Linked DNA regions of Homo sapiens. The protein of the gene in region 2 interacts with the protein of the main gene of each other region in a biochemical or structural test. Each region holds a gene or a part of one and is shown on either strand. Other genes may lie near its edges.

Region 1 (3,752 bases), on a different chromosome or scaffold from region 2:
TTGCTGCCCCAAACCCATACTGGAATTCACCAACTGGGGGTATATACCCCAACACTAGGCTCCCCACCAGCCATATGCCTTCTCATCTGGGCACTTACTACTAAAGACCTGGCGGAGGCTTTTCCCATCAGCGTGCATTCACCAGCCCATCGCCACAAACTCTATCGGAGAACATGAATCAAAAGTGCCTCAAGAGGAATGAAAAAAGCTTTACTGGGGCTGGGGAAGGAAGCCGGGGAAGAGATCCAAAGACTCTTGGGAGGGAGTTACTGAAGTCTTACTACAGAAATGAGGAGGATGCTAAAAATGTCACGAATATGGACATATCATCTGTGGACTGACCTTGTAAAAGACAGTGTATGTAGAAGCATGAAGTCTTAAGGACAAAGTGCCAAAGAAAGTGGTCTTAAGAAATGTATAAACTTTAGAGTAGAGTTTGGAATCCCACTAATGCAAACTGGGATGAAACTAAAGCAATAGAAACAACACAGTTTTGACCTAACATACCGTTTATAATGCCATTTTAAGGAAAACTACCTGTATTTAAAAATAGAAACATATCAAAAACAAGAGAAAAGACACGAGAGAGACTGTGGCCCATCAACAGACGTTGATATGCAACTGCATGGCATGTGCTGTTTTGGTTGAAATCAAATACATTCCGTTTGATGGACAGCTGTCAGCTTTCTCAAACTGTGAAGATGACCCAAAGTTTCCAACTCCTTTACAGTATTACCGGGACTATGAACTAAAAGGTGGGACTGAGGATGTGTATAGAGTGAGCGTGTGATTGTAGACAGAGGGGTGAAGAAGGAGGAGGAAGAGGCAGAGAAGGAGGAGACCAGGGCTGGGAAAGAAACTTCTCAAGCAATGAAGACTGGACTCAGGACATTTGGGGACTGTGTACAATGAGTTATGGAGACTCGAGGGTTCATGCAGTCAGTGTTATACCAAACCCAGTGTTAGGAGAAAGGACACAGCGTAATGGAGAAAGGGGAAGTAGTAGAATTCAGAAACAAAAATGCGCATCTCTTTCTTTGTTTGTCAAATGAAAATTTTAACTGGAATTGTCTGATATTTAAGAGAAACATTCAGGACCTCATCATTATGTGGGGGCTTTGTTCTCCACAGGGTCAGGTAAGAGATGGCCTTCTTGGCTGCCACAATCAGAAATCACGCAGGCATTTTGGGTAGGCGGCCTCCAGTTTTCCTTTGAGTCGCGAACGCTGTGCGTTTGTCAGAATGAAGTATACAAGTCAATGTTTTTCCCCCTTTTTATATAATAATTATATAACTTATGCATTTATACACTACGAGTTGATCTCGGCCAGCCAAAGACACACGACAAAAGAGACAATCGATATAATGTGGCCTTGAATTTTAACTCTGTATGCTTAATGTTTACAATATGAAGTTATTAGTTCTTAGAATGCAGAATGTATGTAATAAAATAAGCTTGGCCTAGCATGGCAAATCAGATTTATACAGGAGTCTGCATTTGCACTTTTTTTAGTGACTAAAGTTGCTTAATGAAAACATGTGCTGAATGTTGTGGATTTTGTGTTATAATTTACTTTGTCCAGGAACTTGTGCAAGGGAGAGCCAAGGAAATAGGATGTTTGGCACCCAAATGGCGTCAGCCTCTCCAGGTCCTTCTTGCCTCCCCTCCTGTCTTTTATTTCTAGCCCCTTTTGGAACAGAAGGACCCCGGGTTTCACATTGGAGCCTCCATATTTATGCCTGGAATGGAAAGAGGCCTATGAAGCTGGGGTTGTCATTGAGAAATTCTAGTTCAGCACCTGGTCACAAATCACCCTTAATTCCTGCTATGATTAAAATACATTTGTTGAACAGTGAACAAGCTACCACTCGTAAGGCAAACTGTATTATTACTGGCAAATAAAGCGTCATGGATAGCTGCAATTTCTCACTTTACAGAAACAAGGGATAACGTCTAGATTTGCTGCGGGGTTTCTCTTTCAGGAGCTCTCACTAGGTAGACAGCTTTAGTCCTGCTACATCAGAGTTACCTGGGCACTGTGGCTTGGGATTCACTAGCCCTGAGCCTGATGTTGCTGGCTATCCCTTGAAGACAATGTTTATTTCCATAATCTAGAGTCAGTTTCCCTGGGCATCTTTTCTTTGAATCACAAATGCTGCCAACCTTGGTCCAGGTGAAGGCAACTCAAAAGGTGAAAATACAAGGTGACCGTGCGAAGGCGCTAGCCGAAACATCTTAGCTGAATAGGTTTCTGAACTGGCCCTTTTCATAGCTGTTTCAGGGCCTGTTTTTTTCACGTTGCAGTCCTTTTGCTATGATTATGTGAAGTTGCCAAACCTCTGTGCTGTGGATGTTTTGGCAGTGGGCTTTGAAGTCGGCAGGACACGATTACCAATGCTCCTGACACCCCGTGTCATTTGGATTAGACGGAGCCCAACCATCCATCATTTTGCAGCAGCCTGGGAAGGCCCACAAAGTGCCCGTATCTCCTTAGGGAAAATAAATAAATACAATCATGAAAGCTGGCAGTTAGGCTGACCCAAACTGTGCTAATGGAAAAGATCAGTCATTTTTATTTTGGAATGCAAAGTCAAGACACACCTACATTCTTCATAGAAATACACATTTACTTGGATAATCACTCAGTTCTCTCTTCAAGACTGTCTCATGAGCAAGATCATAAAAACAAGACATGATTATCATATTCAATTTTAACAGATGTTTTCCATTAGATCCCTCAACCCTCCACCCCCAGTCCAGGTTATTAGCAAGTCTTATGAGCAACTGGGATAATTTTGGATAACATGATAATACTGAGTTCCTTCAAATACATAATTCTTAAATTGTTTCAAAATGGCATTAACTCTCTGTTACTGTTGTAATCTAATTCCAAAGCCCCCTCCAGGTCATATTCATAATTGCATGAACCTTTTCTCTCTGTTTGTCCCTGTCTCTTGGCTTGCCCTGATGTATACTCAGACTCCTGTACAATCTTACTCCTGCTGGCAAGAGATTTGTCTTCTTTTCTTGTCTTCAATTGGCTTTCGGGCCTTGTATGTGGTAAAATCACCAAATCACAGTCAAGACTGTGTTTTTGTTCCTAGTTTGATGCCCTTATGTCCCGGAGGGGTTCACAAAGTGCTTTGTCAGGACTGCTGCAGTTAGAAGGCTCACTGCTTCTCCTAAGCCTTCTGCACAGATGTGGCACCTGCAACCCAGGAGCAGGAGCCGGAGGAGCTGCCCTCTGACAGCAGGTGCAGCAGAGATGGCTACAGCTCAGGAGCTGGGAAGGTGATGGGGCACAGGGAAAGCACAGATGTTCTGCAGCGCCCCAAAGTGACCCATTGCCTGGAGAAAGAGAAGAAAATATTTTTTAAAAAGCTAGTTTATTTAGCTTCTCATTAATTCATTCAAATAAAGTCGTGAGGTGACTAATTAGAGAATAAAAATTACTTTGGACTACTCAAAAATACACCAAATTCTGTGCCTTCTTTTTATCTTTTAACCTTGGTTTAAAGAAATCTTGTTGACTCACACCTGTAATCCCAACACTTTGAAGGACAGAGGCGGGTGGATCGCTTGAGCCCGGGACCAGCCTGGGCAACATGAGAGTACCCAGTCTCTACAAAAAAATAAATAAATACAAAAAGCCGGGCATGGTGGTGCACAACTGCAGTCCCAGGAGTTCAAGGCTGCAGTGAGCTGTGATCACGCCACTAGCCTGGGTGACAGAGTGACACCCTGATTCAAA
Region 2 (3,752 bases):
GGCTAACTTTCTGTATGCCTTTGAAAATGGATAAAAACAAAAAAGGTTATAACTAAACACCAGTTAAAAGTTTTGTAATAACTTAATATCCACTTTTCTGAGAAGTAATGTTCTAGAGTTATAACCTTTCAAAAATATTTTCTATTCGTAGGGATTCTTCGGCACTTTCTCGCGATACTGTTTACTAATGTAATATAACCAAGTAGACAGCAGCTATACTTGAAAACAGGTTACAGTGACGTGAAAACCAGATAAAACAATGAAGCAATGCCACAGGGAAAAACAAAACGTTCAAACATTATCCATATTTTCCCTATTGTCAAGTGTCTTTGATGGCCAAGTAACCAGACCAAGACGACCCTAATAAATTCGAGATAAATGACTGTTAAGCTTTGCGGACTGCAAAACATTACTATAAATCAAGCTAAAGTCACAATTCCTGCTCCCGATGGCTCACGCCTTCCTTCTAACTGTAACATCATGAAAAAGTAAAGGTGGTCCTAGTTAGCGTCTTTTGGTGTTTTATTTGCACGTGGTGGTTAACTGGGGTCGTGGTGGCAACTTCGGTGGTAGAGAAGTTGCACACACTCTCAACGAGGTGTTTGGGTCCTAAAGCACTTAAATCTTCATTCACGGAGGCTCGTGAATTATATAATACAGACTAGCATTTCCGGTAAGGTAACAGGAAGTCCACTGTACTCTTCTCACTGCCTAAGGAGCATTCTCATTTTTCTCGGCTTACAAATCTGGATGCTCTTAGCCTGGTGAGGATGCTGTGGGGCTTAAATGCCTCGTGTGCTTTGAAATCCTGAGATGAAAGATATCGCAGCATTGCAAATAGCAATAATAAGGCCTTCTATTTATGTTTACTGTACACTCAGGCGTTTGGCTGGGACCACGGCTTATTCCTAAGCAGGTACAGGACATTAGCATTACCTGCCCAAAGAACAATGCATCCAAACACAGACCCAGCTACCTCCGGGTCAATGGGCGAGGGACGCAGAGAGGGAGGAGCTCCCGCAGCCGGCGGCCGCGGAACCCAGGAAACAACCCCATCCGCCCGAGGCGCTCTGTGGGGGCGGCCTCGACCTCCCCGCCGTTCCTCCCCGCGGAGCACCAGACCCGGGGCCGACGGCCGCGGGGCGGACAGCTTCTCTCTCGGGGCCGGGATGCGCTGAGCACCTCGGTCCAACCTGTTTTTCCGGGGTGGTGACCTCGACGCGAAGGACCGGGCGAGCTGCTGCCTCCCGGGGGATACCAGCCCCCGGCGCTCGTTCAAGGAGGGAGGAAGGAAGGGCTCCCATCGTGTTTGCGCAGGAGTGAGTTTTATTTGCTGCATCTGCGGGCGGGCGGGGCCGGCGGCCCCAAGGTCAGCCGAGGCCGGAGTGCGCGGCTCGCGGCGAGGCCGGTCCCGCCGCCGCCGCCGACTCCCAGCCCGGGCCAGTCACGGCCGGCGCCGGCTCGCGGGCAGCCCAGTAGCGCGGCCTGGCTGAAGAAGACATCCCTGGCCGCGCAGGCCCCGCGCCCCTCACACCCGCCCGGCCCGCTCCCAGATACCTTCTTCAGCTCGTTCTCGCTGGCGCCGGGCGGGACGCCCAGGATGTCGTACAGCTTCGTGTCAGCCACGTTAGCCATGGCGGCCGGCCGGGCAGTGCTCGGGGAGAAGGTGGCGAAGCAGACAGAGCGGAGTCGGGCCCACAAGCGGCGTCGGCGGCGGCACAGGCCGAGGGAGACAGCGAGGGGGAAGCGGGGGCGGGGCTGAACTTTGACCCAGCGCACGGTGCGCCGTGACGTCGCTGTGCAGAGCCCGCCCCCGAGCGCCCGAGGCGCGGCCACTGGGGTCGAAGTATTGAAGAGTGGGCCAGGTTCTCTGTTTTCCTCCAGGTCCAGGCGGCTGGGCAGGGCCAACGTAGGAAATGAAGAACTGTGCACGGCGCACCCCAGGAATTCAGCTTCCTCTCAAAAGCCATGGTTGCGAGGTCGCGTGTTTAACCTCGCACTGGCTGCTGAGGGAATTAACAGGCCTGCGCAGCAGCTTCGTTAGCTTCGAAAGAAAATGGGCCCCGGCTCCCGCAGGAGGCCCGCCTGGCGCGCAGATGTCGTTATTAGAATCCGGGACGTCGGTGGACCCTCTGGGTCTGGCTCCCTCGGGGCTTACGATGAAAAAAACTGGGGGGCGCGTGTGTGTGTATGTTGTGTTTTATATTATGAGAATTCTGAAACATTTAGCAGAAGCAGTATATTACTCCCCATAGTGCAGTTAGCTACCTTTTACCTGTTTCATTGGCTCCACCATACATTTCTAGTGTTTTAAGGGAAACCGTTTCATTCATAAATACCCTAAGTGTATATATTTAATATCTAAGAGACAACTTTTAAAGGCATAACGATGTAATCTCATCTAATGAAATTAACAATTCCTTAATCTAATTCCCAGTCCATATTTAGGTTTTTCAGATGATCTCATGTCCTTTTACAATTGGTTTGTGGCATCCGGGTCCAAACCAAGGTCCACATGTTGCATCTGGACCACGTGTTTAAGCCTCTTACTTGATAGCTTTAAAATTAGCTAACACCAGAGGTTTAGATGGTGTAAGGCAAGTCTGGCCACCAGGTGACTTGATTTACATTCGTTTTAGTTTCGCTCAGAAAGTATGCTGTGCATCTACCAAGTGCTATGATGTACAGAGGCCTGGTCCGGGGAGAGGAGTGTTACAAAAGTGCCTGCCTTCAACCCATTTACGGTTTATGGAGACAGAAAAGTAAGGTTTTCTGATCCCTTGGAACCTGAACTGATAGCAAAGACTTCAGCATAAGCATCTCACTCAGGATAATGTTTCTTCCTTGGCGTTCCCTTTGACCTAGTTGTGGAGGGCCTGAATTCCATGACAAGGACTCTGAAATTTAGCTTGAAAACCCTAAGAGTAATCAGTGATAAGTCATTAATAGTCCTTAAACCCTTTTCCTCAAATCCCATCTGAAATCCTGCTCCCTCTGTGAAGTCTTCCTTTACTGGGCACTGGTGAACACTGCTATCTCATTCGAGTTCCCACCACCCTTCGTTTGTACCTTTTGTGGTAGGATCTCGAACTCTTTTGTTTTTTTTTTTTTTTTTTTTTTTTTACTTGAAACAGCGTCTCGTTATGTCGCTCAGGCTGGAGTGCAGTGGCGCCATCTCAGCTCGCTGCAACCTCCACCTCCCGGCTTCAAGTGATTCTCCCACCTCAGCCTCTCGAGTAGCTGGGATTACAGGCGCCCACCACCATGCCCGGCTAATTTTTGTATTTTTAGTAGAGGTGGAGCTTCACCATGTTGACCAGGCTGGTCTCGAACTCCTGATCTCAAATCATCCACCCACCTTGGCCTCCCAAAGTGCTGGGATTGCAGGCCTGAGCCACTGCCTCTGCCAACCGCCATTGCCGTGTAAATGCTGACGTCATCCTCATGCACGGCTGTAAAATCCAATTCTCTACTTTTCACATTTTGAGATGTTCGTAAGAGACGGTGTAAAGTTATGGCGAGGTTAGACTGTGTAGGTTGGTAGTCTGACTCTGCCATTTAGGAACAATGTGACCTTCAGCAAGTTACTTAACTTTTCTGAGGTTTCCTCAGGTGTAAGATGGGGCTTGTTATTTTTTATATCATTGGTTTAAAAGAGTTATACATTTCTATTACTTAGGGCTGGGCGCAGTGGCCTGTAATCCCAGAACTTTGGGAGGCTGAGGCGGGATCACTCCTGCCTCAAGTCCTGA

The links. The genes of interacting proteins can lie anywhere in the genome.
Region 1: the proteins of DNAJA2 (region 2) and ERG form a complex in vitro, tested with the Homo sapiens proteins (one study listed by BioGRID).

What each region holds. Positions count from the first base shown.
Region 1 is NC_000021.9:38,379,755-38,383,506, reverse strand, and holds the end of ERG (transcriptional regulator ERG), read left to right. Parts: coding exon 1-104; 3' UTR 105-3,471; downstream 3,472-3,752. UniProt on the Homo sapiens protein: Transcriptional regulator. May participate in transcriptional regulation through the recruitment of SETDB1 histone methyltransferase and subsequent modification of local chromatin structure.
Region 2 is NC_000016.10:46,971,938-46,975,689, forward strand, and holds the start of DNAJA2 (dnaJ homolog subfamily A member 2), read right to left. Parts: upstream 1,738-3,752; 5' UTR 1,636-1,737; coding exon 1,558-1,635; intron 19-1,557; coding exon 1-18. UniProt on the Homo sapiens protein: Co-chaperone of Hsc70. Stimulates ATP hydrolysis and the folding of unfolded proteins mediated by HSPA1A/B (in vitro).